4 linked regions of the Homo sapiens genome follow. The protein of the gene in region 3 interacts with the protein of the main gene of each other region in a biochemical or structural test. Each region holds a gene or a part of one and is shown on either strand. Other genes may lie near its edges.

Region 1 (7,026 bases), about 24 Mb from region 3:
TCAAACGCCTGATGTTATTTACAATTTCACGCACATCAAAGTTGGGGATTTTGCAGGACCACCCAGTACCGATTCCTTCAGCACCATTTATCAGCACCATGGGAATAATAGGAATGTACCATTCAGGCTCAACACGCTGGTTGTCATCATATAAAAACTTCAACGTGTGATCATCTTTTGGTGGAAATAACAATCGAGCCAAAGAGCTAAAGAAAAGAAACAAAGAATGTTATTTTACAAAAATACTGAATTTCACACTTAACTTTTATGGAAAGGACATGTATTATACATGAAAATTATCTTGGTTTTACTTGCTGACTAATATACATTTAACAATATTTATTGAGCACTTGCTATGTGTCACGCACATGGACATAAAGTCTCAATCCTCAAGGAGCTCACAGTCCAGTAGAAGTTTGCAATTAACACATATTTTGTTAGGTGGTGGGATAAACAAGAGAAGAAAAAGTGGGAAAGTGACTGAAGAGGTGCTAAGGAAAGTTAAGCCGTTTCTGATAGGAAAACATTTGAGCAGAGAAAAGACACTGAGGGCGCCAGGTGCAGTAACTCGCGCCTGTAATCCCAGCACTTTGGGAGGCTGAGGGAGGCAGATCACCTGAGGTCAGGAGTTCAAGACCAACCTGGCCAACATGGTGAAACCTCATCTCTACTAAAAATATAAAATTAGCTGAGCATGGTGGCGTGTACCTGTAATCCCAGCAACACGGGAGGCTGAGGCAGGAGAATCACTTGAACCCAGGAGGCAGAGGTTGCAATGAGCCGAAATTGCGCCACTGCACTCCAGCCTGGGCAAAAAGAGCAAAACTCCATCTCAAAAGAAAAAAAAACAACAAAAAACAAACTGAGGGACTGAACCATGTGGATATCTAGAGAAAGAGTGTTGCAGGCAAAGGAACCAGTAAGTAAAAGGCCCTGAAGAGGAAATGTGCTCGGTATATTTGAGTATAGGCCAAGGACAGTGTGGCTGGAGAGGAGATGGTATGAGAAGGAATCAAAAGACATGGAAGGTGGGGACACGGATCACATAATGTCTGGTTAGCTAAAATAGGTCTTTAGATTTTACTCTGAGCAGTTGAAGGTTCTGAATCAGAGTGACTTATTTTTTAAAAAATAATTGGCTGCTTTAAGAAAAGATGATATGTTACAATAGTTTAGATGAGATGGGGGTGGCTTAGTATTTTTCCAATGCAGATCCTATAGGATTGGCTGAGGAACTGGATGTTAAGTATCAAGCAAAGGAGTCAAGGGTGACAAGGTTTTTAGCCTGAGCAATTAGAAGGATGGCATGGCATTCCATTTACTGAGACAGGAAAACTAAGGATTTGGTTTTAGACTTATGTTTGAGATACTTAACTAGATATCCAAGTGGGAAATGTTAAGAGGGCAGTCAGACATAAAAGTTGGGAGTTCAGGGGAGAGACCAAGACTGGAGATTTAAAGGTATAGAACGGATGAATGGGAGATCATTTGGGAATTGAGTGTAGGCATTGGAAAGAGATCTGATGAAGGAGCCCTGGAATGGGCCAGTATTTAGAGGTTGGGAAGGTGAGAAGGACCCAGCAGAGAAAGCTAATAAGGTAGAAGAGAACCAGAAGAGTCTACAGTCATAGAGGCCAAATAAAGAGTTTCAAGAAGGATGGAGCAATTAGTAACTGTTTGAATGCCACTGAAAGGGTGACTGGGATGACAGCTGAAAATTGACCATTCATAATATACTTTCCATAGGCTTGTAAAGGAGTAAAATTTCAATTGTGATATTTAGGAAGAATCAAAGTCTCCTTTACTCAGTCCCAAGCTCTACATCAGGATTTCTCAACCTTAGCATAATTGACATGTTGCACTGGATAATTGTTATGGGGGGGCTTTCCTGTATAAGCCTCACCCCTGGCCTCTGCCACTAGATGCCAGTATCTTCTGATTAACTGAGTTTTTGTATTTTTGGTGAACTAAATCTCACATTGTTTCAAAACTGGAAATGGCAAGTCACTAGAAAGTGAAAGCATACCTACCTGAGCATTGTAAAGATGTATCGTGGACTAGCAGAATCCTTGCCACCATGTAGCCTGGTACCAAACTGACCAATGGGCTGCAAGAGGTTTAGATTATTGCTACCCACAAAATTCTGAGCCAAATTGATAATGGTCATCATTAGTGACATCTGTGGGGAAAAAAAGATTCATTAAGCTGAGGCTTTTACTAATACAAATACATTATGACTTAACCTCACTATAATCCTGTAACATTTTGTGAGGTCTAGTTGTTTAGTGACTTTCCTCAGATTAATAGATGGCAGAAATAGTACTTGAACCTACAACTTCTGGCTCCAAGTTTAGGGCTGCCGTCCAACAATTTCTATTAAATCCCACTCAACTTTGAAGGCATAGTTCTTCTCCTTATCCTCAGCAAAATGAAATATTTCCTCCTTTGTGTTACAATGCTGTGTTCATTTCTATTCTAGCATGTATCACTTTATTCTATAGCTGTGTGTGTATTGGCCCTCTGGCTAAATTGTTATTATATCTTGGGGATAAGGAACATATTTTTATTTATTTTTGTATACCTGGTACATGGTAGGCATTCAACAAATGTTCGTTGGGTGAAAATTTATTGTATCCCTACTATATTTTGATTGAAAGCAACAAGACAACCATTATATTTAAAATTCTAGAAACCTGTAGGCAATCTAGTTCTTTAAAACTGTTTTACATAATTAATGCAAAAAGTAATCACAAAACATTGGTGTAAAGTCAAACAATTCAGACACATATAAAAAGTGAAAGTTGCCCTTTCCAGTTCTCAGGGGTAACTAAAGTGAACAATTTGGAACATATCCTTGTAGACATTTTTAGTTATTGTTCTGTCTCTTTTTTTCCTCACCTGAGAATAGACCCTGGATATTCCTCAGTGTCAGTGCACACAGTTTTACTGAAGTTACAGCACTGATTCCATGCATACATGTGTCACAATTTATTATAACAATTTTCAAATCAGTGGAGGTCTAAATTTTGACATCACAAAGTTATAATAAACATACTAAGCATTTTTTAATGTAGACCTTTGCAGACTTATGAATATCCCTGCAGGAATATTACTTTCAGAAATCAAAGGGCAAGCAGTTTTATTCTTTCACAGGTTTTACCAACTTGTTCTTTACTATGAATATATGAGCTTATACTTTCACCAAATCTGTTTTGAGAATGACTCTGCAGGGATTTCTGATATAATGCTTTCTGGAAACATGGATTGTGTGTTTACCTCACCATGATGATAAGAAGACATTTCAGCCACTGATCCAGCTAATTGGGCAACCTTTACTTCTCGCTTGTCATTCCGTTTGAAGCAAGTAAACAAAACCTTTCTCTGACCTGGTTTCAAACCTTTAAAATGAAATAAGAGCAAACGTAAGTATCCTCAATTTAACCAATTTTGGAATTTGATTTCCATCTTACAATGAAAACAGACTAACAAATTGGAACTCACCATCCACCATAGAAGGGATAGATCTCTCGTTATCAGAATTTGAGAACAAGATAAGTTCCTTGTTGATGAAGTCATTATATGTCAGATATGTGGTAGTTTGTCCATACAAGTAATCCTGAAGGACCAAATAGTATTACATGAGTCTACCGGTCTAAACAATGCTCAACACAAAAATCAAACAGAAACCTTTCAGAACTAAGAATTATTTCTGTAATTCTTAAGTCTTTAAAAAATATTGAATAATACAGAAATATTTTATATGTTTTAAAGATAAAGCAAATTTAACTGCTGCACAACTCTATCATATCAAATTTTTTACTAAAATAACTATTCAGTAAGTTTAATTTGCTATAGTATCAATACCAAAAGGTCAGTCTAACAATCCATTTTGTGGCATATATTTAAAACTTTTACCTCAGGAAGCCCAAGTAACTTTCGTTGTCTTCTATCCTCCATGAAATTAGTTAACCATTCCTTTCGATCATCTATCTGTTTTTTGCTAAAGGCCTATAAATTAAAGGATGAAAAGATGTCACTGGTACTAATAGGCTAATAGGTTCCAAAATATCCTTCTACAAAGAACGAACAACAGAAAAACAAAAATACTGTTTTCCTTTTTTTTTTTTTTTGAGACGGGAGTTACTGTTCTCTTGCCCAGCCTGGAGTGCAATGGTGTCATCTTGGCTCACTGCAACCTCTGCGTCCTAGGTTCAAGCGATTCTCCTGCCTCAGCCTCCTGAGCCCCTGGGATTAAAGGCGCCCGCCACCACGCCCAGCTAATTTTTGTATTTTTTTTTTTTTGAAATGGAGTTTCACTCTTGTGGAATGTGATGGCACGATTTCGGCTCCCACAACCTCCACTTCCCAAGTTCAAGTGATTCTCCTGCCTCAGCCTCCCGTGTAGCTGGGATTACAGGCACGTGCCACCACACCCAGCTAATATTTTGTATTTTTAGTAGAGATGGGGTTTCACCATGTTGGTCAGGCTGGTCTTGAACTCCCGAGCTCAGGTGATCCACCCGCCTCGGCCTCCCAAAGTGCTATGATTACTGGTGTGAGCCACTGCGCCCGACCTTTTTTGTTTTTTTTTTTTTTTGAGACAGAGTCTCGCTCTGTCGCCCAGGCTGGAGTGCAGTGGCACCATCTCAGCTCACTGCAAGCTCCGCCTCCTGGGTTCACGCCATTCTCCTGCCTCAGCCTCCGGAGTAGCTGGGATTACAGGCGCGTGTCACCAAGCCCGGCTAATTTTTTATTTTTTATTTTTTTTTATTTTTAGTAGAGACGGGGTTTCACCGTGTTAGCCAGGATGGTCTCCATCTCATGACGTTGTGATCTGCCCGACTTAGCCTTCCAAAGTACTGGCATTACAGGCGTGAGCCACCACGCCTGGCCTTTTTCCTTTTTTTTTGAGATGGAGTCTCACTCTGTTGCCCAGGCTGGAGAGCAGTGGCCTGATCTCGGCTCACTGCAACCTCTGCCTCTCGGGTTCAAGCGATTCTCCTGCCTCAGCTTCCCAAGTAGCTGGGACTATAGCTGCGTGCCACCACGGCCGGCTAATTTTTTGTATTTTTAGCAGAGATGGGGTTTCACCTTGTTAGCCAGGATGGTCTTGATCTCCTGACCTTGTGATCTGCTCGCCTCTGCCTCCCAAAGTGCTGGGATTACAGGCGTGAGCCACTACGCTCGGCCAATTTTCGTATTTTTAGTAGAGAGGGGGTTTCACCATGTTGGACAGGTTGGTCTCCAACTCTTGATCTCAGGTGATCCACCTGCCTTGGCCTCCCAAAGTCCTAGAATTATAGGCATGAGCCACCAAGCCCAGCCAAAAATCAAAATTTTCTAAAATATCTGATTCCTTCTCTGGGATATGCTTACTGGAAACATTCTATTCTATAAAACATTCTTTTTTTTTTGATACGGAGTCTTATACAAAAATGTAAATGTTTCAACTGGCTAAAGTAGTGATTTCTAAAATTAGAATGTATATAAAATACAACTCAAACCTACCAGGCTGATAGCAGCATCATCTTCAGGACCAGAATATTTGAACTGGATACGATGTCTTTTCATATCTGCAAAGTATTCTTTAGCTTCCTTTGATGTGCTGGTGCCCAAACCTATAAAACCAAAAATACCAAGTTCCTTCATATAGTCTTGTACAGGGTGTATAATAAAATGAGAAGTTCTATATGGGTTTCATTACAAACCTTTGTAATATTTGACTTTCCATTTTTTATGATTTGGAGTAGAACTCTTCCACTCTTCAAATTCAGGAAGGCTGTAAAATGCCATTTCTTGCTTGTTTTTAGATACCTGTGATAAAAAACAATGACTGTGGCTTTGTACACTGTGGGGTCCCCTGTATACCACTACATGTGACGGGGCTTATATGTATATCCAGGTTTGAGGAGTAGGGTCTTAAAATATCCATGATGGTACTTAGAAATTAGCGTACCTTTACAATGGGAGTGATAAATTCCTCCAGAAAACGATGTCGCAGAAGAGAGGGCCAGTTGTGATGGATAAAATTAATCAGCAAGCCTTTGATGTGGGAACCATCTTGGTCCTAGAAAGATTTGAAAGCCAAAGTTCAAAAGAACTGTTAGGCTGGGCGTGGTAGCTAACATCTGTAATCCCAGAACTTTGGGAGGCCGAGGCAGGCGGATCGCCTGAGGTCAGGCGTTCGAGACCAGCCTGGCCAACATGGTGAAACCCTGTCTCCACTAAAAATACAAAAATTAGTTGGGTGTGGTGGCATCCGCCTGCAATCCCAGCTACTCGGGAGGCTGAGGCAGGAGAATCGCTTGAACCCATGAGGCGGAGGTTGCAGTGAGCCAAGATTGCACCATTGCACTCCAGCCTGGGCGACAAGGGCGAAACTCCATCTCAAACAAACAAAGAATTGTTTAGAAATAAAAAAATATTATGACTGACCTACTGGCAATTTGTCAAATTTTCTATGGGAATCAAAAAAGGTCTGTTCAAATCCAGACTCACTTAACCTGTATTTGCAACATACATATGATATAAGCATATCTGATTAGATGTTGATTAGAGATGATGAATAAAGCTCCTATTTAACTAATTTATTTTCATGGCAAAAAACAATGAAATTAAATTAAGACATGCTTAATTTAGTTGAACAATCTAAAAATTTAATAACAAATCTGACCTGATCTGTCATAATCATTATCTTCCCATAACGAAGCGTCTTCAATGAATCTTCATCTTCATAGTTTTTCTTGTACTGAAGACCCACAATCTTGATGATATTGTTAATCTCAGCATTTTCCATGATCTGAAATGGACATATACCAAAAAAAGCATCGTTTATAAATTTGAAAAGAACAAAGAAATTTAACAGTATATGTTGCTTGGATTTTCTTGAGCTCCAGTATTTTGAGCTATTAGCTTATAATTTACTACATCAGAAAGGTCTGTTAAAATAGGCTACAATGTACCTAATTTCTCAAAATAAGCACAAATTGTCTAAAATATATTTTAAAATGCCTAATGAGGGAATTA
Region 2 (7,026 bases), on a different chromosome or scaffold from region 3:
CAGGCTGGTCTCGAACTCCTGACCTCAGGTGATCCACCCGCCTTGGCCTCCCAAAGCGCTGGGATTACAGGCGTGAGCCACCGTGCCCAGCCCTAGAGTTTTTATGTCTACCTGAATTCTCACATAAAAACAAGCAACCAGACAGCAGAAACAAAAACCCACAGAATCCTGCAGGAGCTAGATTTTTAGAAAAAGGAAAATAGCCAGGTGCGGTAGCTCACACCCGTAATCCCAGCACTTTGGAAGGCCGAGGATCACAAGGTCAGGAGTTCAAGACCAGCCTGACCAACATGGTGAAAGTCCGTCTCTACTAAAAACACAAAAATTAGCCGGGTGTGGTAGCATATACCTGTAATCCCAGCTACTCAGGAGGCTGAAGCAGGAGAATTGCTTGAACCCAGGAGGCAGAGGTTGACCCAAGATGGCACCACTGCAACTCCAGCCTGGAAGACACAGCGAGACTCCATCTCAAAAAAAAAAAAAAAAAAAATGCTGGGCGCAGTGGCTCACGCCTGTAATCCCAGCACTTTGGGAGGCCGAGGCGGGTGGATCATGAGGTCAGGAGATCGAGACAATCCTGGCTAACACAGTGAAACCCCGTCTCTATTAAAAATACAAAAAATTAGCCGGGCATGGTGGCAGGCGCCTGTAGTCCCATCTACTCAAGAGGCTGAGGCAGGAGAATGGCGTGAACCCAGGAGGCAGAGCTTGCAGTGAGCCGAGATCACACCACTGCACTCCAGCCTGGGCGACAGAGTGAGACTCCGTCTCAAAAAAAAAAAAAAATCGTGCCACTGCACTCCAGCCTGAGTGACAGAGCAAGACTCTGTCTCAAAAATAAAAATAAAGACCAGCCTGGCCAACATGGTGAAACTCCATCTCTACTACAAATACAAAATCAGCCAGGTGTGGTGGCATGCGCCTGTAACCCCAGCTACTCAGGAGGCTGAGGCGCGAGAATCACTTGAACCCAGGAGGCAGAGGTTGCAGTGAGCTGAGATCATGCCATTGCACTGCAGCCTGGGCAACACAGCGAGACTCCGTCTCAAAAAAAAATTTTTTAAAGAAAATAAAGAAAACCCACAGAAAATATTTACTATAAAACAAGATATCCCTATAAACCCCAAAATACAAGAGGGAGGAGCAAACTCCAAACAGACCTGCATACTAATGCGATCTGTGTGGGAGGACAGCGGAGACAACAATGGGGCTCCTGAGAAATCTGAGGACAGGAGGCCCCAAAAGAGCCAACAGGTACCCTCTGGAGCACAGGGGTCCAATCTGAGAACAGCAGCTACAACGGGGAGGGGTTGTGCCCGTTTCACCAGCTAGTGAGTGCCAGGGGCCTGCAGCAAGTTCTGTTGGGGCTAGAGCGACCCTGATCCTGCCAGCTCTCAAACCTGAGTCCCAGCTCCGTGCCAGGACAGGGCCCCATGACAAGGAGAATGGAATCAAAACTGAGCAGGACAAGGAAGGGCAAGAGAGATGAAGGAAATAGGAGGTTCCAAAAAAAGTGGGCAAGTGGACCAGAGCCAGGAAATCTCAGAGAGCCAGCGCCATATTTTTGAGCAGTGCACAAAAGCAACACAAGGGGGAGCTCGGCGAAGTCAGCAACGCCACCCTGAGCCACACTCCATCCAAAAGTTAGAAAAGCAGCAAGGGTGCGGTGGCTCACGCCTGTAATCCCAGCACTTTGGGAGGCCGAGGCAGGCGGATCACAAGGTCAAGAGATCAAGACCATCCTGGCCAACATGGTGAAACCCCGTCTCTATTAAAAACAAAAAAATTAGCTGGGCGTGGTGGCACGCACCTGTAATCCCAGCTACTCAGGAGGCTGAGGCAGGAGAATCACTTGAACCCAGGAGGCGGAGGTTGCAATGAGCCAAGATCGTGCCACTGCACTCCAGCCTGGCGACAGAACGAGACTCAATCTCAAAAAAAAAAAAAAAAAAGAAAAGCAGCAAGGACAAGGAGCAAGACACAGCAAGAGGAAGAAGGAAGGAGCCAGCCCAGGCTTGGGTGAGGAACTAGGATGGGGCTGAGCTTTGAATTCCACAGCCCTGCCCCCAGGCCAGTGTCGGGCTGTCACTTCCCTTGCTCACCTGGTCTCTTGCTGTGAGGCAGGGCAGGTAAGGCAGAATCTCTACAACATCCACATTGCAAAAATTGCTGAAATTGCGGCAGATATACTTATAGGTCTTGTCTTCAGCAAACGGCATTGCTGCTCAGATTCTGGAGAGAGGGCTCTGGCCCCATGAAGGGTGGATGGACTGAGAGGAAACGAGACTGGAAGAAAACAGATCACACATTACAACAGGGTTGGGGGGTTGGGAGTGGGGCTGGACAAAAGGCAATTCTTTCTCAACTTTTTGGAATGTTTGTTTTCTTTCATCTTTAATTTCTTCTTTTTTTTTTTTTTGAGAGCGAGTCTCACTTTGTCACCCAGGCTGGAGTGCAGTGGGGCAATCTCGGCTCACTGCAACCTCCGCCTCCTGGGTTCAATTGAGTCTCTTGCCTCAGCCTCCCTTCTGAGTAGCTGGGATTACAGGTGCGCACCACCATGCCCAGCTAATTTTTGTATTTTTAGTAGAGATGGGGTTTCACCATGTTGGCAAGCTGGTCACAGACTCCTGACCTCAAGTGGTCCACCCGCCTCGGCCTCCCAAGTTTGGGGATTACAGGTGTGAGCCACCACACCTGGCCGTTTTTGTTTTGTTTTATTTTGTTTTTAAGAGATGGGGTCTCGGGCTGGGCACAGTGGTTCACGCCTATAATCCCAGCACTTTGGGAGGCCAATTTGGGGGATTAACTGAGGTCGGGAGTTGGAGACCAGACTGACCAACATGGAGAAAATCCCGTCTCTACTAAAAATACAAAAAAAAAAAAAAAATAGCTGGGCATGGTGGCGCATGCCTGTAATCCCAGCTACTCGGGAGGTTGAGGCAGGAGAATTGCTTGAACCTGGGGGCAGAGGTTGCGGTGAGCCAAGATTGCACCATTGCACTCCAGCCTGGGCAACAAGAGCGAAACTCTGTCTCAAAAACAAACAAACAAACAGATGGGGTCTCTGTCACCCAAGTTGGGTGCAGTGGTGCAATAATAGTTCACTGCAGCCTCGAACTCGTGGGCTCAAGCAATCCTCCCGCCTCAGCATCCCCGGTAGCTGGAACTACAAACCTGCGCCACTATGCCCAGCTAATTTTTTTATTTTTTCTAGAGACAGGGTCTCATGATGCTGCCCAGGCTGGTCTCAAACGCCTGGCCTCAAGCGATCCCCCTGCCTCCGCCTGTCAAGTAGCTCGGATGACAAGCACCAGCCAATGTGTCCAGCCACCTTTAATTTCTTTTTTTTTTTTTTGAGACGGAGTCTTTCTCTGTCGCCCAGGCTGGAGTGCGGTGGCGCGATCTCGGCTCACTGCAAGCTCCGCCTCTCGGGTTCACGCCATTCTCCTGCCTCAGCCTCCTGAGTAGCTGGGACGACAGGCGCCCGCCACCACGCCCGGCTAATTTTTTTGTATTTTAGTAGAGACGGGGTTTCACGGGGTTAGCCAGGATGGTCTCGATTTACTGACCTCGTGATGCGCCCGCCTCGGCCTCCCAAAGTGCTGGGATTACAGGCGTGAGCCACCGCGCCCGGCCGCCATCTTTAATTTCTGTAAACATCCTATTTTATTACTGCCTGAGTCTCTCCAAAATTCCTGCAGAACCCGGGCGCGGTGGCTCACGCCTGTAACCCCAGCACGTTGGGAGGCCGAGGCGGATGGATCACGAGGTCAGGAGTTCAATACCAACTTGGCCAAGATGGTGAAACCCCGTCTCTACTGAAAATACAAAAAAATTAGCCAAGCATGGTGGCGGGCGCCTGCAGTCCCAGCTATTCAGGAAGCTGAGACAGAGAATTGCTTGAACCCAAGAGGCGGAGGTTGTAGTGAGCCGAGATCACGCCACTGCACTCCAGCCTGGGCGGCAGAGTGAGACTCCGTCTCAAAAAAAAAAAAAAAAAAAAAAATTCTGCAGAATTTGCTAAAAATGAATTGATGACCACCAGCTACTCAAGAAGCTAGGGCAGGAGGATCGCTTGAGCCCAGCTGTTCGAGGCCAGCCTGGGCAACACAGCGAGACCCTGTCTCTAAAAAAATAAAAATAAAAATAATTGAAGACCAAAAAGAATCAGATCCAGAATACCTAGGGCCCATTTCTTCTCTGCAGGTTGGTCAGCACTGGGAAGGTCTGCATGTACCCCTAGCACATGCGGTGGGGGGATCTGTATGTGACCCTAGTTTCTGTGCCTATAAATGTCCTGGCTCCCTTCCTGGCTCTAAGGCCCTCAAGCTGATAGCAAGAGGGCTATACCTAAACGTGCTGCTGCTTTGGGACACACTGAAAAAATAAAAAGTGAACCCCAACATGATAATAATCGGATCATCCCGCTTTAAAGAAGAAACTGAGGTATGCTTGCTAGTTAGTAGAAGAAGAAAGAACTGAGATCTTCAGGTCAGCTTCTTTCCATGACATGGCTGCAGGCCCACCATTAAAGCCTGCTACACATAGGCCGGGCACGGTGGCTCACGCCTGTAATCCCAGCACTTTGGGAGGCCGAGGCGGGTGGATCACGAGGTCAGGAGATCAAGACCATCCTGGCTAACACGGTGAAACCCCGTCTCTACTAAAAATACAAAAAATTAGCCCGGCGTACTGGCGGGTGCCTGTAGTCCCAGCTACTCGGGAGGCTGAGGCAGGAGAATGGCGTGAACCTGGGAGGCGGAGCTTGCAGTGAGCCAAGATTGCGCCACTGCACTCCAGCCTGGGCGACAGAGCCAGATTCCGTCTCGGGGGAAAAAAAAAAAAAAAAAGCCTGCTACACATACATTCTTTTTTTCTTTTTTGAGACAGAGTTCCAGACTCTTGTTGCCCAGGCTGGAGTACAATGGCACAATCTCGGCTCATCGCAACCTCTGCCTTCCGGGTTCAAGTGATTCTTCTGCCTCAGCCTCCTGAGTAGCTGGAATTACAGACATGCACCACCACACCTGGTTAATTTTGTATTTTTAGTAGAGACAGGGTTTCTCCATGTTGGTCAGGCTGGTCTTGAACTCCTGACCTCAGATGATCTGCCTGCCTTGGCCTCCCAAAGCGCTGGGATTACAGGCGTGAGCCACCATGCCCGGCCCACATACATTCTTAAGATAGGAGACTGAGTTCCATGCCTTGAACTCACTGTGTGTCCTGGGCAAGTTATCAGTTTCCAGACTTCCTCACCCTTAAAACGGCTCAGATAGCAGCTTGTTTTGACAGTACGGTAATTCAGCCTTATAAACTTTTTTTTTTTTTTTTTTTTTTGAGACAGAGTCTCCCTGTCGCCCAGGCTGGAGTGCAGTGGTGTGATCTCGGCTCACTGCAGCCTCCATCTCCCACATTCAAGCAATTCTCCTGCCTCAGCCTCCCGAGTAGCTGGGATTACACGTGCCCACCATCATGCCTGGCTAATTTGTTTGTTTGTTGTTGTTGTTGTTTTTGAGAAAGAGTCTCGCTCTGTTGCCCAGGCTGGAGTGCAGTGGCGTAATCTCGGTTCACTGCAACCTCTGCTTCTCGGGTTTAAGCAATTCTCCTACCTCAGCCTCCCGAGTAGCTGGGATTACGGGTACACGCCACCATGCCTGGATAATTTTTATATTTTTAGTAGAGACGGGGTTTTATATGTTTTAATGTTGGCCAGGCCGGTCCTGAACTCCTGACCCCAGGTGATCTGCCTGCCTTGGTCTCCCAAGTTGCTAGGATTACAGGCGCCAGCCAACGCGCCTGGCCAATTTTTGTATTTTTTAGTAGAGACAGGGTTTCACCATGTTGGCCAGGCTGGTCTCGAACTCTTGACCTCAAGTGATCCTCTTGCCTTGGCCTGCACAGTGCTGAGCCACTGTGGCCGGCCTCTAAGCTTAAATTTTTTTTTTTTTTTTTTTTGAGACGGAGTTTCGCTCTGTCACCAAAGCTGGAGTGCTGTGGTGCAATCTCGGCTCACTGCAAGCTCCACCTCCTGGGTTCACACCATTCTCCTGCCTCAGCCTCCCGAGTAGCTGGGACCACAGGCGCCCGCCACCACACCCGGCTAATTTTTTGTATTTTTAGTAGAGATAGGGTTTCACCGTGTTAGCCAGGATGGTCTCAATCTCCTGAACTCGTGATCCGCCTGCCTCGGCCTCCCAAAGTGCTGGGATTACAGGCGTGAGCCACTGCGCCTGGCCTTTTTTTTTTTTTTTGAAATGGAGTTCACTCTTTTTGCCCAGGCTGGAGTACAATGGCGCGATCTCGGCTCACTGCAACCTCTGCCTCCTGGGTTCAAGCGATTCTCCTGCCTCAGCCTCCCAAGTAGCTGGGATTACAGGCATGAGCCACCACGCCCCGCTAATTTTGTATTTTTAGTAGAGACAGGGTTTCACCATGTTCCGGTCTCGAACTCCCGACCTCAGGTGATCCGCTCACCTCGGCCTCCCAAAGTGCTGAGATTTACAGGCGTGAGCCACCGCGCCCAGCAGCTTAAAAAAATTTCTTTTTTTTTTTTTTTTTTTTTTTTTGAGACAGTCTCGCTCCTTCACCCAGGCTGGAGTGCAGTGGTGCAATCTCGGCTCACTGCAAGCTCCGCCTCCCGGGTTCACACCATTCTCCTGCCTCAGCCTCCCAAGTAGCTGGGACTACAGGCGCCTGCTACCACGCTCGGCTAATTTTTTGTATTTTTAGTAGAGACAGGTTTCACCGTGTTAGCCAGGATGGTCTCGATCTCCTGACCTCGTGATCTGCCCGCCTCGGCCTCCCAAAGTGCTGGGATTACAGGCATGAGCCACCGCGCCCAGCCAGCTTAAAAATTTTTAAGTGCCTCAAATATAAGCAATTGCTGCCAGTTGTTTATGTAGGAGTTACCACAATTTGCAGTTATAGATGTATTTGCTCGTTACTTTTCTGCCGCCCCCATCAGGGAGTGCTGCAGGGAATAAAAGAGACAAGGTCTATGCCACATCCAATTTATATTCTAAT
Region 3 (7,233 bases):
ATTGCTTGAACCTGGGAGGCGGAGGTTGCAGTGAGCCGAGATGGCGCCACTGCACTCCAGCCTGGCGACAGAGGGAGACTCCGTCTCAAAAAACAAACAACAACAACAACAACAACAACAAAACCCCAAAAGACCATGCAGTTTACGGATCATTATGCTGTTCCCTCATTTCTTTTTTGTTATTAATGGAATTTAGCAAAGAACATCTTCTGTACTATTACTTATTTTTCAAGAATAGGGCCGGGCGCGGTGGCTCACGCCTGTTATCCTAGCACTTTGGGACACCTAGGCAGGCGGATCACCTGAGGTCAAGAGTTTGAGACCAGCCTGGCCAACATGGTGAAACCCCACCTCTACTAAAAATACAAACATTAGCTGGGGGTGGTGGCAGGTGCCTATAATCCCAGCTACTCCGGAGGCTGAGGCAGGAGAATCACGTGAACTTGGAAGGCAGAGGTTGCAATGAGCCAAGGTCGCACCACTGCACTCCAGCCTGGGTGACAGAGTGAGACTCCAACTCAAAAAATAAAATAAAATAAAATAAAATAAAATAAAATAAAAATGGTGGCTGAATGAATCTCATAGTAATATTTTGATATGTAAAGAATGGTCCTGCTGGGCACAGTGGCTCACGCCTGTAATCCCAGCACTTTGGGAGGCCGAGGAGGGTGGATCACAAGGTCAGGAGTTCGAGACCAGCCTGACCAGCATGGGGAAACCCCCGTCTCTACTAAAAAAAAAAAAAAAAATACAAAAATTAGCCAGGTGTGGTGGTGGGTGCCTGTAATCCCAGCTACTCAGGAGGCTGCGGCAGGAGAATCACTTGAACCCAGGAGGTGGAGGTTGCAGTGAGCCGAGATTGCACCACTGCACTCCAGCCTGGGCAACAGAGTGAGACTCCGTCTAAAAAAAAAAAAAGAATGGTTCTGTTTTCATGTCCAATGCTATTTTCCTTTCCTCAAAGACTTTTACACCTGAATGTATATAATTGATTTTACCTAAGATTCCCATCCCTTAATTTTCCGTCTTATCTTTCCCAAGTTCCGGCTATTAATTTGGTAATTCCCTACATGTTGTCATTATAATGTATATATATCCCCCTTTGGGGACATAAACATATCCCCAAGGGAAGAGAAACACATAAACTTTTTTGTTTTTTTAAACTTTCTAACCCAATCGTCTCTGAAATCTGAGCCTGGACTAGATGAGGCCACTCACTTAAGAGAGGCCTTCAAAATGACTTTCCTATTATGAGTATTCTGTTTTTGAGTGCATTTGTTTTTTGAGGTAGGGTCTTACTCTGTTGCCCAGGCTGGAGTGCAATGGCATAATCATGGCTCACTGCAGCCTCAACCTCCTGGGCTCCAGTGATCCTCCCACCTTGGTCTCCCGAAGTGTGGGGATTACAGGTGTTAGCCACCACGCTCTGCCCCTGTTCTATGTTTTCATTTATTTTACTTCATTTTAAACATTTAGTTACTTTTAAATAAATGTTTACAGTCAATGTCAATATTTAAGATGGCAAGGAAAACAATAAAATGAACATCCATGTACCTGCTTAAAAAAATCATTACCAGTACATTGATTTTCTTTTTATTTTTGTGATAGTCTCAGTATGCTGCCCAGGATGGAATGCAGTGGCACTGGAATGCAGTGGTGTGATCACGGCTCACTGCAACCTTGACCTCCACAGGCTCAGGTGATCCTATCTCAGCCTCCTGAGTAGCTGGGCCTATAGGTGCAGGCCACCACTCCTGGCTAATGTTTTGTAGATACGGGGTTTTGCCATGTTGCCCAGGCTGGTTTCAAACTCCTGGGCTCAAGTGACTCCTCTGCCTCGGCCTCCCAAAGTGCTAGGATTACAGGCATGAGTCACCATGCCCAGCCCTTGAATGGTTTTAGTGTTATTCTTATCTGAATATTTGTTTTAAACAACAGGATTTAACCTTACAAGAAAGCCTAAATACAAACCTCTGCACGTTAACCCTATATACATTTTTCTATGCTGTCACTTACATTTTTTAATTTACTGCTTTCAACTTCAAAACAAGCAGTCTCCCCCAGGTCTCCCATGACGTTCTGAAATCCTAACTTCTATTACCTAATACAAGGCTACAAATTATGTTAGTTGGGTGGTTGGGAACAAAGCGTGCTGTAAAAATAAGGCAAATGTGTATGTGTACATTAGTTTGCTAAGTTTTTTGCCACTGTCTGCCCTCTTAAATTGTGGTAGCAGCTATTGTTCACATTGATTTCTATATATTTGTAGTACAAGGAAGCATTTCTAAAGGACCTTGTTCATTGCTTTGCACAAAATGGCCACTTAATATTTGTTGAATGAATTGCTGGCACTATCTCTGGTATTTTAATTTTTATTTATTTATGTATTTATTTTTGATATGGAGTCTCGCTCTGTCACCCAGGCTGAAGTGCAGTGGCGTGATCTCGGCTCACTGCAACCTCCCGTGTTCAAGCGATTCTCTTGCCTCAGCCTCCCTAATTGCTGGGACCACAGGCATGCGCCACCAGGCCCGGCTAATTTTTTTGTATTTTTTTTTAGTACAGACGGGGTTTCACCATGTTGGCCAGGCTGGTCTCAAACTCCTGACCTCAAATGATCCGCCCACCTCGGCCTCCCAAAGTGTTGGAATTACAGGCGTGAGCCACTGTGCCCGGCCTATCTGTGGTATTTTTAGTGTGATGTCTAGAACTTCATATACTTTTTTGGATTACTTTTAATTGTAGGGCTGTATCCAAACTGATGAAATGTTCTCGCAGGTAACTATCTGGAGAAGTGAGTTCACTGATGTATTAAAAGAAATGACTGGCATGGAATAAGGATTAAAATATATTAATCCAAAACATTTAAAATTGCATTAATGTTATAATAGCCTAAAGCAAAACTAACGAATCACATAAAAAATCCCCCACGCTATTGTCCTTAGTAGTTTACATTGTGCTAGATACTTTCGCATGTATATGCATACAACTTCTATTCTGTTTTTAAACTTTGCATTACATATACATTCTTCCATATTATATGATCTTCATAAAAATAGTTACATGGCTGCATAAAAAACCATGCGGTTCCTGGACTATTATGCTATTCCCTCATTCCCCTTTTGTTATTAATGGAATATAGCAAAGAACATCTTCTGTACGATTATTTGTCAAGAATAGGGCCGGTGCGGTGGCTCAGGTCTGTAATCCCAGCACTTTGGGAGGCCGAGGCGGGCTGATCGCTTGAGGTCAGGAGTTCGTGACCAGCCTGGGCAACATGGGAAAACCTAAACGTCTCTACTAAACATGTCTCTACTAAAAATACAAAAATTAGTGGGGCGTAGTGGTGCACACTGTGGTCTCAGCTACTCCAGAGGCTCAGGTGGGAGGATCACCTGAGCCCCGGAAGTTGAGACTGCAGTGAGCCGTGTTCGCACCACTGCACTCCAGCCTGGGCGACAGAGGGAGACCCTGTCTAAAAACAAAAAAATAAAAAATAAATTTCTAGCAGTACAGTTACAATGTCAAAGGATAAGGTACACATTTTTTAAAAACTTTTCTCTTTCTCCTCCTGAGATAACGAAATACAGTAGCGTATGAACAACTCTTCATACATTACTCTCCAAGGTTTATCTTGTTAATCCTTTAAGACGTATCATCTCCCCATCCTTGGCTGCACCTGAAAAGAGCGGGAGTCGGCAGGTAACCTGATCTCCTCCACCAGGTGAGTCCCGGATGGAGGTGTCAACTACAAGACCAGGAGCAGAGCATTCCTGGGGTTTTGCTGGAACCATCGGCGTGGGAATGCTTTCTCTTCCCTCGCCCGAAAGACGCCAAGTTCCCGGCAGGCAGCGGACTCGGTTCTAACCTTCCTCGCCCCAGCCTCTCGGAGCGCCCTGCACGCAGTGGGCGTCTAATAAAATGCAGTTGGCCCTGCTTGGACAAAAGTTCTCCCTTAAGTGGCCCGGACAGTAAACCCCTCCAGGTGCCACAGAGCTGCCGCGCCCGCCGCCGCTTTGCTCCCTGCCTGCTCCCTCCCAGCGTTCCGCGTGGGACCCTCGGCGGCAGCTCACACCCTCCCTGACTGCCGGTGCCCGCCAGGGCACCCTGCGCGCGCCCGCCGGCCCCGCCCCGGCCCCGCCCCGCCCCGCCGGCCCCGCCTCCCGTCTCCTCCCCGCCCCCCGGAGCCGACGAGTGGCGGCGGCGGCCCCAGGTCCCGGGTCCCTCAGACAAGAGGGCGGGTGGAGGAGGAAGCGGCCGAGCCCAGAGTTCTGCTCCGGCGCCCCCGAGCACCGCCCGCTTCAGCCGACCAGCCCCGTCGGCTACTGGGCCTCGCCGAGACGAGAGGAGGGAAAGGCCTCGGCGGCCGCGAGGAGGCGGCGGGGGCGCGGGCGGAGGCGGCGCGGGCGGCCGCGGCTGCCGCTTTGTTGTGCGGCCCGGGCCGAGGAAGGAGAAGTGGGAGGAGGGGGGAGCTCGGCGTCCCGCTCCCTCCGCGGCTCATGGCGACGACTCTCGGCACATCCGGGACCCTCCGGCCGTGGCGGCCGAGGCGCCGGCTGCTCGGGCCCCAGCCCCGGCCGCTGTGGTGACTCCGCCGCGCCTCGCCGTCGCCCCCGTGCCGCCCGCCGCCCCCGCCGCCCCCGCCGCCGGGGACATGTCTAACCCCGGAGGCCGGAGGAACGGGCCCGTCAAGCTGCGCCTGACAGGTGAGGGGGGGCGGCGGGCCGGGCTGGGCAGCCGCGGGGTGGGCGAGCTGGCGGGGGGTGCCTGTGGCCTTGGGAAGGGCCAGGGTCGCGATCAATGATGAGTTGGGGGTCGGAGGAATGGGAAGGCCTAGTTCAGGGAGAGTAATTGGAAAACCACTTGCTCTGGTTTGGACATTGTTTAAAAAGCCGAGGATGACTCGGGGCGGGGGGTGGTGTTTTGTGGAGGGGAGAATACACCGGTTCGCATCGCAGGCGGATTTCAGGTCGGAAAGTCTTGGTCAAGGAGCCAGACGCTGCCTCCCGGGGCTCGGGGAACAGCCCCTGGGCTACCGCCCAGGTGAGATCGTGAAGGGGATGAAGAGCTCCCGTGGCGAGGATTATTGAATCCGGTTGCTGACTGCGCGCAGTAAACACTCCTTAAAGATGGAGCGCTTAACGGGAGGGTGTGCGTGTGTGTTCCCGGGTTGTTACCTTGCACACACCCAGTTATGCCCGCATGAAAAACCTTTACTCCCCGCCGCCGGCCACCGCTGCCCGGGCCACACACCTTAAACTCATGTCTCTGAGGTGAGGAGACAGGTTGACTTTTCCGGTGTGCCTGTCTGATCCGACGGCTTGGGCTCATTGTACACTGTGTTTTGGAAGTGTCTGATTGTAGGGTGGCATGTTTGGGGTTGTTCCTTTTAGGCCGCAGAACTTGTGTCTAACTTCTAACGCCAGACCTGCTTTAAAAACACACTTTTTTGGGGGGGGTGCATTGCTAAGTATGTGCTCATACAAACTTTCGAGCAAACTTTCTGTTACTCTCCCCACCCTCCCCATTCCTTTTTCGAAATGGAAAAGAATGTCCGGAGGGGTTGCCAGATAGAAGACTACACTTACAAAGTGTTTATGATTCCAGGTGCATGAAATCTTTAACATTACAGGTACGTTTTGCTTACAGTGCCATTTTTGGTATTCTTACATGGACATGCCACCCCCGTTTTAGGAGAACTTTTATTTGGTTTGTAAAGGAATTGGAATCACGGCGTTATCCTACCTTCACCATTTACCCCTGATAAATTGTCCACGTTTGTATTCGGGTGAGTGGTGAGAAAGATAATTTTCCGTAGAGGATTTGTGTGTGCGTGCACGTGTACGGATAAACTGTAATTATGTTTGCCCACACTAGACTTTGAGATTTATTTGGACTAATTTTGTAGTTAAATGCCTGTGTGTCACATCCCAGTCCACTGGCTGAACTTGCTGGATGAAAACTTGCAGTGAATTTGGTATTTGAGAATTTAGCTTGAATGTATGTTGGCTGCAATTTAAATAATATATTACTTTCATGGCAGTTTTCCTTTCCCTAGGGAAAATTGCAGGGAATCATTAACTGAGTGATTCTTAATGGAAAACCTGGATTGGAGGATACTTGTATTCCACCCCCTCCCCCCTCATTCAGTGTCCTTACATTGGGAGGAGTCAGTGGAAACCTTTATAGGGGATCTTTGTTGCTTTAGAGTTTATCTGTTGCTGTTGCTGTCTGTAGTCAGTGATCGTGGAAAGAACATGTGATCCCAGGTGTGCAGAAAGCATCAGAAATAGGCTGTTTCCATTTACCCTCCTCTGGGCTATGTAGAGAAAATGAGGGAAAAAATTGGGTTTTTGATTTTCTGCAGATAAGGTTAGTTGAGGTTTTTAGTATGACTTAATAGATCTTAAAGTGTTTATCTGTGGTTTCCGTACTGCCTATGATACATTATAAGAATTTATAATTAAAGTTTATTAAGAGGAAAGATTATGCTTATATTTTAGGGGAAGGGGGAATATTGAACTACATTTATAGTGATTTTGTTTCAGGTTTTTCTGAGGAATTTTAAATACCCTGTGTCCTCTTAATAGTAAAAACAGTTTGAGGTACTCTGAGTTTCTTACAACTATTTGTCTCTGAATAGTTTTCTCTTAAAATTTGACAAATATTAAAAACATTGTCCTTCCTTCTTTGGTTACAGTGGAGTCTCTTCTGTTTTGCCAGGAAAGTTAACATATTTTTTCTTCCATTTTTGTTCATCATTTATAAATTAGATGGTATAGATTTTAGCAAATAGATCTCAAGAGCTGGATTCAATTAGCAGCTTTTTAGGACATAAACATTAAAGGGTTAGATGGAAAAGATTGTTTTGACTGACTGGATAAATGACAGGGCTGTGTTTGATGTGCGTCCAGGAATTGGTCTGGAGCTGGTGCCCAACTTCTCAGTCCATCTTGAGAAGCCAAATAAAATATTTAACCTAGGCCTCATTTTGTTTAAAAAAAAAAAAAAAAAAAAAGTTGATTCTTTGTGAAGACCTTAAGAAATGTTTGGCATACCTTTAGACTAAGTGTTTAACAGTTCATTTAGATCTGGGTTGCCTAATAGAGGAAAAAAAATCACTTAAAAAAAGACAGATCCCACAGTGAATTTATATTTGGTTTACAATACACTTGGGCTATAAGGTGTTTTAAAATTATTGTTCTTTGCTTTAAGTTAATACCATATTAGTAT
Region 4 (7,026 bases), on a different chromosome or scaffold from region 3:
TGTATATGCCCTCTTATAAGCTACTATAATTTTTCATCATGTGATGCATTTTCAAATAAATTTAATAAAAAATTGTTAGGGCAATAAAGTAAAAGCATGTTCCAGTTTAAGATCAATGCCAAATTTCTGAACTGGGGCATAATACTTACTCTGCATCTTTTACAACACTTCTAAGAGTTAATCACATGAACATGAATACAAACAAATGTAGATTCATCACAAAATACAAATGTATTGGTCACAATTATGTAGAAAAAAATAAGCTGTAATATCTGTTTTCAATGTAAGCTCACAGTATCTGTACTCAAAGTTTCTCTAAAATTAAAACAAGTCCACTAACAATATAATTGAAAAGAATACTTCTGCATTATGAAACAGAAGATATGGGGTTCAGAGGGGAGCCCATCTGAGTAAGGACTTTATCCAGCCACTGAAGAGGCCCATGAAGATGAATCTCAATCCAACATGGGGTGCTGGTTACATCCTGCCGGTGATATTCTGCTCCCCAACCCTATGAAAATGAACAGATATCATCACAAATCCCTCTTTAAACTGTCAACCACTCTAAACCAATTTTACCATAAGAAAAAGATAGCTTTTAACAGTAGAGATATGTAGAAGTTACATAAAGAGAATAACTATCACAAAACCAGTCTTAGTATTCACCATGAAATTAAAAGACAACAGCTACATTATTTAAAGATTCATGAATTCTAAAATAATATATAATTCCCTTAAAAGAAACCCTTAGAGCCAGTTATAGTTCATAATTTTTTTTAATCTTAGAAAGGTAACACAGTACAGTATCTCATAATTAAAACAAATATTTCTGATCTGAGATACATTCTCCCTTAATGGGATAAATGCAAAATAGAAAATCACCACTAGAACACCACAGTAATAATTACTGTAGACAAGATATATTGAAGAATGCAAAAATTGTGGGTAAAATATAAAGGAGAAACAGTGTATTTACATAGCCCCAAAGAATCTGCCTGCAAATATTTATAAATACCATTTTCTCTTAATTTCTTTGTAAGACTTAATGACTATTTAAAGGAAAAATTTTAACTGTATTATAAGATATAATGTGCAGATGTAAAATTTATGAATAGCACAAAGAATAAAAGAAGGTAATTAAAACTCTTCAACAGCAAGGTTTTCATATTTTACATTCTAAAAATAGTACAATATTAACTCTAGGTAGATTGGGGTATGTTAAAGATAACGTGGTAATTCCTGGAGAAACCACTAAAAAATGTAAAGAGATGTCACTTAAATACTAATAAAGGAATCATATATAAAAAATCAAAATCAAAATCATAAATAGCCTCATGTAAGATCATGTCACATGTCAGAGTTTCTTTTTTTTTTTTTTTTTTTTTTTTTTGTGAGACAGAGTTTCTCTCTTGTTGCCCAGGCTGGAATGCAATGGCGCAATCTTGGCTAACTGCAACCTCCGCCTCCCAGGTTCAAACAATTCTCCTGTCTCAGCCTCCCTAGTAGCTGGGATTACAGGCACCCACCACCATGCCCGGCTAATTTTTGTATTTTTTAGTAGAGACAGGGTTTCACCATGTTGGCTAGGCTGGTCTCGAACTCCTGATCTCAGGTGATCCACCTGCCTTGGCCTCCCAAAGTGCTGGGATTACAGGTGTGAGCCACCTCACCCGGCCCAGGTTTTTTTTTTTAACGAAAAATTTTTTATTTTCAAGTTGTTTGAATATCAGATAAGGCATTGTAGATATTGATCAATACATGCATGTATAATTTAATGTGGCAGTCACATAGTGATTATCCTTTAAGGTTGGAAATTACTGGGATGAACTGAGCTGAAATCTTTAGCCTAAAACTGCAGATAAAAATTGAAATAGAAATTTTTCACTTTTATTTTCCTGGATTTATCAGGTTCTCTGGTTTACTGCTTATGGTAGTCTTGGCCCAGGAAAACTGGGTTGGGGAGGGAGGGCGGTCAGGGGAGTGAAGAACATTGGGGAGTGGAGATTAAAATAAATATGCAAAAGTCACATTACTGTACAAGAAGGCAGAAATACCTTCAGGGTAACCAGTAAACTGATGTATACAATAGATCTACAGCAAAGTATCATGAAAACACTGGACTGGGGCTGAATACCAAAAAGAAAAAAACCCATGCACAGCGTGTGACAGGTGCTCTTCTTGTGCTAAATTCTTAAGAACCATGTAGATACAGTACAGATTGCTTAAATATGTAGATACAGTACAGATTGCTTAAATACATGACTAAAATTCTTTTCAGATTTTAAGCACAAATCTTTGGAATGTCAATACAGTCAGGTGAAGAGAGTAGATGAAAAACTTGAAAAGTTCCTTTGAACTTTGCAAATCCTTAATATTAAGGTTGGTGGAAAAGTAATTGTGGCTTCTGCCATTACTTTTAATAACAGTACTTAGCTAGGAATGAAATAATTTTAGTATTCTAAAGAATTCTGCCAAGTCACCCTAATGAAATCTAGTAATAATAATCAAAACTGTTGAAGTTAAGAGACTCAAATAGCAATTTTAATATTAAATGCTGATATGATTTGGCTGTGTCCTCACCCAAATCTCATCTTAAATTGTAGCTCCCATAATTCCCACATGTTGTGGAAAGGACCCAGTGGGAGATAACTGAATCATGGGGGCAGTTTCCCCCATACTGTTCTCACAGTAGTGAATAAAGTCTCATAAGATCCGATAGTTTTATAAGGGGTTTCCCCTTTCATTTGGCTCTCATTCTCTCTTGCCTGCCGCCATGTAAGATATGACTTTGCTCCTCCTTCACCTTCCGCCATGATTGTGAGGCTTCCCCAGCCACGTGGAACTGTGAGTTCATTAAACCTCTTTTTCTTCATAAATTACCCAGTCTTGAGTATGTCTATTAGCAGCATGAAAATGGACTAATACAAATGCTTTCTAGAAATTTAGTCTTTTAACTAAAATTCCTTATAATCTCAGCCCCTATTCAATATCAAAATCAATATCAATCATGCATTTTATAATGTCTAGATTACAAAATGAAATCTTAGATCTATTATGTAGTTAAAATTACAAATTCAATAATTTTATTTAAAAACCTGTTAAATCAGGCCAAAAGCAATTATCAACTTTCATTTAACAATTTTTAAAAATTATAACCTAAAGTCATAATATACACATTTATAGTGACTCAAATTATGTTAGAGGTCACAACTCACCTTGACAAAACTCATCCGAATGGTACACATTTTGGTGAGCTCATATACTGCCTCAAACCCATGGTTGACAGATTGAGCCAGAAGCTGAGCAAACTCCTGATTGTTAAAAATTTTGAGGCTGCAGCTGCTGGGAATCTTACAGACAGTGGTGGGATGAAAGCCATGATGAAAGTTGCAGTTCCTACTCTGTACAAATATGCTGCTGTCACTGAGGCATTCCGCATACACCTCTCCACCAACATAGTACAGATGAACACCTTAAAAAGACAAACATCACAAGAGTCAGCTAAAAGAATCATTACAATGAAACCAAATAGACTGTATGGTGCAACAAAAGTACCCATTAATCCACAGCAAACTTCCAGCAGTCTTTAGACAGAAGTTACCACTAGATGGCCTTCTGCTGCCAAAGATAATCAAGAGGTTAATGTCTGCCTGCATCTACAAGAGAAGCCTCAAATAGGCAGCAGATTAAGTTATCCATTTTTAGGTTGTTCTCTTTTTCCTTTCCCAACAATCATTTATCATCTCTATGAGAGAAAGAGAGGGCTAAAAAAAAAAAACCCCAAATCATCTTTTGATGAGTCCTTTCAAATAAATCCTCAGTGCTATCAACTATCATAAACAGTCATTTGACAGACTTTTGCACTCTTTGTGCTAACAAAGAGGACAGCAACACTAAAAAAAAACCAAAGTTACATATATAATTTCAGGTCATAAGAAGAGCTTTGAAATGGCAGATTTATCTTACTTAAAATTTTTTTATATTTAAAAATATATATGTTCCTTTGCAAGATGTGAGGGCAAAAAAAATAAAAATTTTAAAAATATATAAATATGTGGAAATAGTTTTAACATTAAATATTCAAATTATATAACTAAAGCTAGTCACCTAGTATTTTCCCAACATATCCCTCCACCACCCCAAAACTAACCCATGAAAGAAAAGGTCCTAGAACTATATGCTGGGGAAAAAGAAAAAACTGATTCTAGAATTTCAAAATTCACAAAATAGATTTCCCTTAAATTACTTCTACTGTGATGGAAGAAAAAAAAAATCAATGCCTAGAAGTGAGGCACTTCACTGAAAAAACTAAGGCAAGTTGGCAGTAAACTCAAGACAATGAAAACTTTGTTTCGTAACTTATTTTTGGCCGCAGGATTTTTTTGAATCACTTCTATAAGAAATCCTATCACAATTATATTTATTTACCTTTTATTCCTATTTTGGACCAAGATGCCCTCAAGTTAAAGAAGCAAAATGCAGCAAGGGGTAAAAACAAAACTTCTCAAGAAACAGGCAATACACTTTACCTGGGATGGGTTTCCTTCCTGATCACTTGATGCATGAGACTTTGACATTTTATTGCAGTATGAAAAGGGCCCGGTTTGTTATGGCAACTATCTGCAGGATGAATTATTAATAAAACCTTATTGCCTAAATTTAAAAGATGGGAGCAGTGGTGGTGAAGCCACTGGAGTATCATTCACACTAGATTTCCCATTTCTAATTCCGCTCCTCTCACATCATGGTAACACTTACAAGTCATCTCAACCCAAAATACTCCACAAATACCTTAATTATAAAATTCTAATCCTTCACCAGCATTCATACACAATATTCCATAAATATGTGTTGTGTATTTACAATGAGGCACTCTTCTAGCTACTGGGGATACTGCTGTGAACAAAGCAAGTTCCTGTACAGCTTATGTTCCAGTCAGGGTAACACTCAAAAAACAAAGTGGTAGTATGATTTCAGATCCTTAGCACTGGGAAGAAACACTAAGCAGGACAAAAAAATGAGGGAACATCATGTCTTTATTTGATTAATACATTCTTCAATATCGGCAACTTAAGGCAGAGGCCACGTGTCAAACTTCTTTGTATGTTTCTAGCACCTTTCACAATGCATGGTTCATGGCAAGTACAACAAATGATTGAATTCGATTAAATGTAGGAAAATGACAAGATTACCTTTTCCAATATGTCGCCTAGTGTTTTCAATTGTCGAATTACGATTAACATTTGACAACAAACCCAAGCAGAATCTACTTTTGTTATTTGAAGGATCTGTGAATCCATCTACTAACACACTAGTAGAAGATGCATGAAAAGCTTCTCCAACACGATTGTTTAATTCATAGTAGACTATTGAACACCAATGTTTAGGCTCTTCATAGGCAACAGGCTGAACATCTGTGAACAAACCAGACACAGAAAGAGTTTAATACATATCAGAAACTCAGATTGTCCATGTGTTTATCTTTTAACCCAACCCAAGTATTACATGAAAAAGAAAATTTTCAGATATTTCACAAGTCTCACTGTCCTTCCTAGCTGTGAATCTATATCCGAAAACAAGCACTAGAAATCAGCTTGAATATGACAATTTAAAAAGTTATAGAAATACCAGGATCGGCAATAGTCGTAGCTTGCTCAGGCTATAAAATACCGTAAGGCTGAGTGGCTTAAACAACAGAAATTTATTTCTCACAGGTCTGGGGGCTGGGAAGTCCAAGATCAAGGTGCCAGAAGATTTGGTAACTAGTGAGGACCTGCTTCCTGGCTTGCAGACAGCTGCTTTCTCACTGTGTGCTCATATGGCCCCTCCTCAGTGCATGCTCTTAGAGAAAGATCTGTTTCTTTTCCTCTTCTTATAAGGGAACTAATCTCATTATGACAATCCCACTCTCAAGCCTAATTATTTCCATCTTCAAATACCATCACACTGGTAGTTAGGACTTCAACATATGAATTTTAGGGAGATTCAATATGGTCCATTAGCATTCCACCCCAGCAACCCAAAATTCACATCATTCTTACATGTAAAATACACACATATATTCTATCCCAACAGCCCCTGAAGTCTTAACTCATTTCCACATCAACTCTAATGTTGTAAACCCAGTATCATCCAAATATCATCTACATATGACATACGAGACTTGAGGCAAAATTCCTTTCCAGCTGTAAACCTATGAAACCAGGTAAGTTACGTGCTTATGGTGGGACAGACACAGGATAGACGTTCCCATTCCAAAATGGAAAAACAAAAAATAAGGGAGTGATGATGGGTCAAGGAAGCTGAAAACCTAGCAAAGCAAATTGCATTAGGCCTTAAGGCTGGAGAATAAACCTCTTTGGTTTGATGTTCTACCCTCCCAACCCTCTGGGTGGAGTGAGGAGGTGCCCAGGCCTTGGTTCAAAACATGAATTTTGGGACGACACAATTCAGAACATAGCAGCAACAACACATTTTTAATTGTTTTTCTAACATAAACTAATTCAGGTTTAAATTTGAGACAAAAAATTCTTTTTCAGAGACCTGAAGGATTTAACTATAATCAGTATCTGTAAAATTATTTTAAACAAAAAAGTTAAACTAAAAAACTAAGTGAGACTCAGCAAATTAGGAATAGAGGGGAACTTCCTCAGCTTGATACGGAACATCTACAGCTAACATCATACTTAATGGTAGGAAACTAGAAGGTTTTCTGCTAAGATCAAAAACAAAGCAAAGATGCCTCCTCTCCCACTTTTCAACATCATACTGGAAGTCCTTGCTAATGCCATAAATAAATAAAAGGTACACAGATAGGAAAGGAGGAAATTGTCTTTGTTTGCAAATTACATGATTGTCTATGTAAAAATAAGAAAGAACTGACCAAAAAATTCCTGGAACTAGTAAGCATTATAGCAAGGTTGCAGGATACAAGGTTAATAAGCAAAAGTTGATTGCTCTCCTATACAGCAACAATAAACAAATGAAATTTAAAATAAAAAAATTATAATTTACATTAGTATCCCC

Evidence for each region.
Region 1: the proteins of SMURF2 (region 3) and TOP2A form a complex in vitro, tested with the Homo sapiens proteins (one study listed by BioGRID).
Region 2: the proteins of SMURF2 (region 3) and MAVS form a complex in vitro, tested with the Homo sapiens proteins (one study listed by BioGRID).
Region 4: of the proteins of SMURF2 (region 3) and SMAD5, one has a biochemical effect on the other in vitro, tested with the Homo sapiens proteins (one study listed by BioGRID).

Annotation. Positions count from the first base shown.
Region 1 is NC_000017.11:40,400,876-40,407,901, forward strand, and holds part of TOP2A (DNA topoisomerase 2-alpha), read right to left. Parts: intron 6,800-7,026; coding exon 6,674-6,799; intron 6,068-6,673; coding exon 5,957-6,067; intron 5,815-5,956; coding exon 5,709-5,814; intron 5,619-5,708; coding exon 5,509-5,618; intron 4,009-5,508; coding exon 3,916-4,008; intron 3,617-3,915; coding exon 3,502-3,616; intron 3,399-3,501; coding exon 3,277-3,398; intron 2,180-3,276; coding exon 2,031-2,179; intron 207-2,030; coding exon 1-206. UniProt on the Homo sapiens protein: Key decatenating enzyme that alters DNA topology by binding to two double-stranded DNA molecules, generating a double-stranded break in one of the strands, passing the intact strand through the broken strand, and religating the broken strand.
Region 2 is NC_000020.11:3,849,818-3,856,843, reverse strand, and holds part of MAVS (mitochondrial antiviral-signaling protein), read right to left. Parts: intron 2,287-7,026; 5' UTR 2,220-2,286; coding exon 2,103-2,219; intron 1-2,102.
Region 3 is NC_000017.11:64,659,302-64,666,534, reverse strand, and holds the start of SMURF2 (E3 ubiquitin-protein ligase SMURF2), read left to right. Parts: upstream 1-4,227; 5' UTR 4,228-4,654; coding exon 4,655-4,706; intron 4,707-7,233. UniProt on the Homo sapiens protein: E3 ubiquitin-protein ligase which accepts ubiquitin from an E2 ubiquitin-conjugating enzyme in the form of a thioester and then directly transfers the ubiquitin to targeted substrates.
Region 4 is NC_000005.10:136,170,822-136,177,847, reverse strand, and holds part of SMAD5 (mothers against decapentaplegic homolog 5), read right to left. Parts: intron 5,415-7,026; coding exon 5,193-5,414; intron 3,473-5,192; coding exon 3,216-3,472; intron 512-3,215; coding exon 368-511; 3' UTR 1-367. UniProt on the Homo sapiens protein: Transcriptional regulator that plays a role in various cellular processes including embryonic development, cell differentiation, angiogenesis and tissue homeostasis.